2 separate regions of the Homo sapiens genome follow, and region 2 is linked to region 1. Evidence: fine-mapped expression QTL. A gene starts in region 1. The other region holds a variant in brackets. All regions are shown on one strand. Distances are between the middles of the regions. Region 1 holds the start of HM13 (histocompatibility minor 13). Region 2 overlaps HM13 (histocompatibility minor 13).

Evidence for each region. PIP is the estimated chance that this variant, and not a neighbour inherited with it, causes the effect.
Region 2: its variant is fine-mapped to the expression of HM13 in whole blood (INTERVAL, PIP 0.99).

What each region holds. Positions count from the first base shown.
Region 1 is chr20:31,512,711-31,515,612 of GRCh38, forward strand. It overlaps HM13 (histocompatibility minor 13), which reads left to right and starts at 1,732. Exons shown (of 13, transcript NM_178581.3): 1 at 1,732-2,024. The coding sequence starts at 1,842. RefSeq lists a silencer at 2,329-2,398.
Region 2 is chr20:31,566,866-31,569,690 of GRCh38, forward strand. It overlaps HM13 (histocompatibility minor 13), which reads left to right. Exons shown (of 13, transcript NM_178581.3): 12 at 1,213-1,359; 13 at 2,255-2,678. The coding sequence ends at 2,354. HM13-AS1 (HM13 antisense RNA 1) reads right to left here. Exons shown (of 3, transcript NR_046853.2): 3 at 722-1,083. Among named protein-coding and RNA genes, the nearest start is that of HM13-AS1, 5.0 kb to the right of the region's middle. RefSeq lists enhancers at 1-674, 1-87 and a silencer at 2,741-2,825. The variant T/G (reference allele first, on the strand shown) is at 1,710.

The sequences.
Region 1 (2,902 bases):
CTGGGGAGGCTGAGGTGGGAGAATCACCCAAGCCCAGAAGGTAGAGGCTGCAGTGAGCTGTGATCATGCCACTGCACTCCAGCCTGGGTGACAGAGTGAGACCCTGTCTCAAAATAATAATAATAATAATAATAATAATAGGCCCTCCTTGAAGTTTTTTGTTTGCACAGTCACACAGTGATGCTTAGATGTTCCAGTATCTAATATAGCCACAGTAGGCTGCAAGCAGTGGCTCATACCTGTAATCCCAACACTTTAGGAGGCTGAGGCAGGAGGATCACTTGAACCTAGGAGTTTGAGACCAGCCTGGCCAACATGGCAAAACCCCATGTCTAAGAAAATATATATTTTTAACTTTTTTAACAATATCAAAAATAAGAATCACATAAATAAACAGATTCTTCAAATTCTGAAAAGAGCCACAAAGCTTTATAAATTGTACAGGGGCATGAACTCGTAAGGTATTATAATTGCCTGGCACATAGTAGGCTCTCAATACATTTGCAAACTCCACACACACCTTACTTTCTTTTGCTTTATTTTTCTCTATTTATCTGCATTAACATGCTATGTAACACATAACTATACATTAACGTTTTACAAATTACAAATTTTTCTTGTTTTTTTTTTTTTTTTTTTTGAGACAGAGTCTCACTCTGTCGCCCAGGCTGGAGTGCAGTGGGCTCACTGCAACCTCCGCCTCCCAGGTTCAAGCCAGTCTCCTGCCTCAGCCTCCCAAGTAGCTGGGATTGTAGGCGCCCGCCACCACGCCCGGCTAATTTTTTATATTTTTAGTACAGACGGGGTTTCACCGTGTTAGCCAGGATGGTCTCGATCTCCTGACCTCGCAATCTGCCCACCTCGGCCTCCCAAAGTGCTGGGATTACAGGCGTGAGCCACCGCGCCTGGCCTTTTTTTTTTTTTTTTTTTTTTTTTTTTTCAGACGGAGTTTCGCTCTTGTTGCCCAGGCTGGAGTGCAATGGCTCAGTCTTGGCTCACTGCAACCTCCGCCTCCCGGGTTCAGGCGATTCTCCTGCCTCAGCCTCCCGAGTAGCTGGGATTACAGGTGCGTGCCACCACGCCCGGCTAATTGTTTGTATTTTTAGTGCAGACGGGGTTTCACCATATTGGTCAGGCTGGTCTCGAACTCGTGACGTCAGGTGATCCACCCGCCTCGGCCTCCTAGAGTGCTGGGATTACAGGCGTGAGCCACTGCGCCCAGCCCATTTTACAGACTTTTATTTTGTTCAGTTTCTTTATTGTCTTCCCAACGTCCCCCCACACACACTGCACTAAAATGCAAACTTCACGAAGGCAAGGAGGAACTTTTGCCTGTATTGTTCACCTCAGTGTCCCCAGAGCCTAGGTCAGTTGTTGGCATATTGAGGGACATTCAATAAATATTTAAGGAGTGAATAAACAATTGGATACCCAATAAATGCATGTATGAATAAACACATTCTTAGTTATTCGGAATATGAGGATTTGCGGAGAGTGGACAGCAGGGGATTGAGGAGACCGGCTGGGACTGGGAAATGGGCATTCGGGTCGCATGCCCACCGCAGTGGCCCAGAGCCCCTGTCCGGACCGCTAACAAGTTGCTTAGCAACCCGCCGCCCGGCCCTCGGCCACCGCTAGAGGGCGAGCGGGCGGGGAGACGTGCACGCGCGCGCGCGTGCGTGCAAGCGTGTGTGCGCGCGTGCGCGGCGCGGGCTTGGGAGGGAGCACGTCACTTCCTGTTGCCTTAGGGGAACGTGGCTTTCCCTGCAGAGCCGGTGTCTCCGCCTGCGTCCCTGCTGCAGCAACCGGAGCTGGAGTCGGATCCCGAACGCACCCTCGCCATGGACTCGGCCCTCAGCGATCCGCATAACGGCAGTGCCGAGGCAGGCGGCCCCACCAACAGCACTACGCGGCCGCCTTCCACGCCCGAGGGCATCGCGCTGGCCTACGGCAGCCTCCTGCTCATGGCGCTGCTGCCCATCTTCTTCGGCGCCCTGCGCTCCGTACGCTGCGCCCGCGGCAAGGTAGGGTCAGCGGGAAAACCGGGCACTTTCCACCCCCATACCGAACACGGCCGACATGGACCCTTCCTAGGCGGGACAGACACCTCTCCCCGGACACTGACTCTTCCCAGCCCTGATCACCACCGTTCCCTCTGTCTCGGGCCCACATTCCGGGGCTGGCATTTCCTACCCCGGGATCTGGGCACCGACCCCCGACCAGGGTATGATACCTTCCCCAATAGGAACTTGCTTCTGCTCCCGACCCGGACCCTGACACTTCCCTCCCTGTGCATCATGCCGCGGCTGGGAACGCTGTCAGCCCGTCCCCCACTGCGACTCGGGCACTGATTGTTCTGAGCCTGTTGGGCCCAGGCAGATCAGCCCCATCATGTATACCTGATGGATACTGGTCCTCACAACTTACTGAATGGTACAATTTCGTGTCATTCCCTGTTAGGAACCCTGCCTCAGCCCACCGCAGGGCCCTTTCTACCATCCAGACCCATCCCTAGACTCTGACTCCTGTCTCACTGGAATCTATGGCACCTTATGTGCTCACCTAGATCCCCCACACCTGGCCCTTGCCCCTGCCTCAAAAACAATGATCTCTTAGAGCCCAGTTTTTCACATCACTTTCTGGAACCATCCCAGTCAGCTGGCTCCTCAGAAGCTGGCATCTTGGTGCCTCTACTTTCCAACTAGGCATGGACGTCTTATTTTCCTGGTTTCCTCTCTTAACTACCATCCAACCTTGGACATGGCCTAGTCAAAACCTAGACCTTGTTCCTAACCTGTAACCCTTTTCCCACCCAGCCTTTGACCCTATCTCAAAGTAGCCCTTCTCCCCATACCCCCAAGACAATCCCCCCACCAAACTGGGCCTGTCTGCTGGGCCACTG
Region 2 (2,825 bases), 54 kb after region 1:
CATACCGCAAGGCCTGCGTGACTCCAACAGGTGTCTGCCCCCAGCACTGCCGACCCTGCCTGCCAGGGACCTAGAAATAGCTGTCAGTTGCGATTAAAGCTGCCTACTCGGGTGCCTTCCGCCCAGTTCCACCTGCCTGGCCTCCAAGCTGTCCCTAGAGCGCTTGCCAGGGCCTCCTGTGCACCTGGCTCCCCGCAGGGGAGCCTGTGACTCACCCCTCCCCCGGACCTGCCTCTGCCCTCCCTGTCCTGTCTAGAATCCCCAGCCCCCCGCCTGCCTGCCCACATTGCCTCGCCCAGCAAAGCTCTGTGGTCTGAGGCAAGTGGGGGCTAGGGGTGAACTTGGGGACAGGTCTCAGGGAGCTTTGGGAGCAGGCATGGCACCCGATCCCTGAGCTTAGCACCCATCCTTCACCCTCCCTCTGCTTCCCATCCAGCCCAGGTTTCCCTGCCCCTCCCCTTGGGGTAACCACCCAATGCTATTGTGCCCTCATCAGGCAAAGCTCTGAATACACAAGGCAGAGGGTGCCCCTGGCCTTTACCTGCTTGGTGCTAAATGCTCTGCCATACAGGTACCCTGCCCCCACTGTTTGCCCTCCACTCCCACCCTGGACATTCTTAGATTGGGGTAAAAAGCAAGTGATCTCTCTCTCTCTCTCTCTCCCTCCTTTCTCCCCATTTCTCTCCCAATTCTCCACCTTTTTACTTTTCCCTTCTATTCTCCTCCTTTTTTTATTGATTTACTTATTTTTATATTGGTACCACATTCACATAGTTAAAAATTCCAAAGCTGTAACAGAGAGAGCACCCTCATGCTCCAGCTACCCCACAGAGGCCAGCAGTGTTACACAGACATTCAGACACCTGTGCACTGATGTGTGTATACTTTTTCTTGCACAGACGGTGGCATTCTTGGAGCATTCTGCACATTGGGTTTCTACGGTATTTCTTAGAGGTGTTTCCACAGCAGCACATACACTTCTAGAGCATGCTTGTTCTTCTGCACAGTGGCCTGATGTGCCTTTGTCTAGGTGCATCTTTCTTTTTTCATTCTCCAAATAATATCAGCTTCTTTCCATAAAATCTGGAAGTGCAAAAATAGGTAAAAACAAGACAGTTCTGCTCTCTGCTCCTTGGAAAGGAAGTCTCTGTCCTCCCTTAGTCTTTCCCTATCCATCTCTTTTTTTCTGTCTCTTCTCTCTCTCTCACACAGCTACGAGTCCTCGGCGGAAATCCTGCCTCATACCCCGAGGCTCACCCACTTCCCCACAGTCTCGGGCTCCCCAGCCAGCCTGGCCGACTCCATGCAGCAGAAGCTAGCTGGCCCTCGCCGCCGGCGCCCGCAGAATCCCAGCGCCATGTAATGCCCAGCGGGTGCCCACCTGCCCGCTTCCCCCTACTGCCCCGGGGCCCAAGGTAGGGCAGACACTGCAGCTCCAGTGCATAGGGCAGGGACCATTGCCAGGAGTAGGCCGCAAGAGCAGCTCCTCCACAACCACCAGGCAGTGGTTGCACCGAGCCATAGGGCTGGGAAGCAGGACAACCCCGAAGCTTCCTGCCCTCACCAGTAATGCGGGGCCCACATCATAGTGGATGGAAATGGCCCTTGTCATGCAGTAGTAGATACTGTTACCATTCAAGGTATATGTATAACCTTAGGCAAGTTACTTTCTTCATCTGTAAGTGGGCACATTCCTGCCTCACGGGGTT[T/G]ATCTGGTGAGGAAAGATTTGTATTATCTTTGGCATGAACTCAGTTGCTTGAAAAATGAAGCCCATAGAAGAAGCTAAGCCAGGGTGTCTGTCTTCAGAGCAGCACCTTGCCGCTTGCCAGTACAGCAGTGCCCTCACCTCTGGGGCTGAGCTGTTTGATTCATGCTGTGTGCCCTGGGAGGCAGCCTATCTCCATCTCTTGTAGCCTTGTCATGGCCACCCCTTTTTCCACGCTACAGCAGAAGGTTCAGGAAGCTTGAAATCAGCCCACACAAGCCCAGGCCCAACCTCTCTTCCATTGGCTGCTGCCCTTGCTGCCTCCTGGTACCCCCAGGCTCAGAGAAAGCAGAGCAGCCTGCCTGAGGAGGGCATGTGGTAGGGCTGGGGCCAGGCGCTGTTAGGTGCTGGGCAGTGGACACAGGGCTGACGCTCTGCATGTGACCAGGCGCTTTCCTAGGATGGGGGTGGGGGAAGGGGACAACCAAGGTTCTGCTCACCCTCTCCTCTAAATGAATTTTTATTGTTGTTTTTTTTTTTTTGGTCAGTTATGAGGAGTCAAATCCTAAGGATCCAGCGGCAGTGACAGAATCCAAAGAGGGAACAGAGGCATCAGCATCGAAGGGGCTGGAGAAGAAAGAGAAATGATGCAGCTGGTGCCCGAGCCTCTCAGGGCCAGACCAGACAGATGGGGGCTGGGCCCACACAGGCGTGCACCGGTAGAGGGCACAGGAGGCCAAGGGCAGCTCCAGGACAGGGCAGGGGGCAGCAGGATACCTCCAGCCAGGCCTCTGTGGCCTCTGTTTCCTTCTCCCTTTCTTGGCCCTCCTCTGCTCCTCCCCACACCCTGCAGGCAAAAGAAACCCCCAGCTTCCCCCCTCCCCGGGAGCCAGGTGGGAAAAGTGGGTGTGATTTTTAGATTTTGTATTGTGGACTGATTTTGCCTCACATTAAAAACTCATCCCATGGCCAGGGCGGGCCACTGTGCTCCTGGAAGATTCTCTGTTTAAGCACCCAGTGTCTTGCCCTGGGTTTTCTAGGTCTCACCTGCCCACCCAAAATCTTTTCTGCAAGCCCCTTAAGGGTGCCCACCCCAGTGCCTGGCCAGCCCTGCACCCG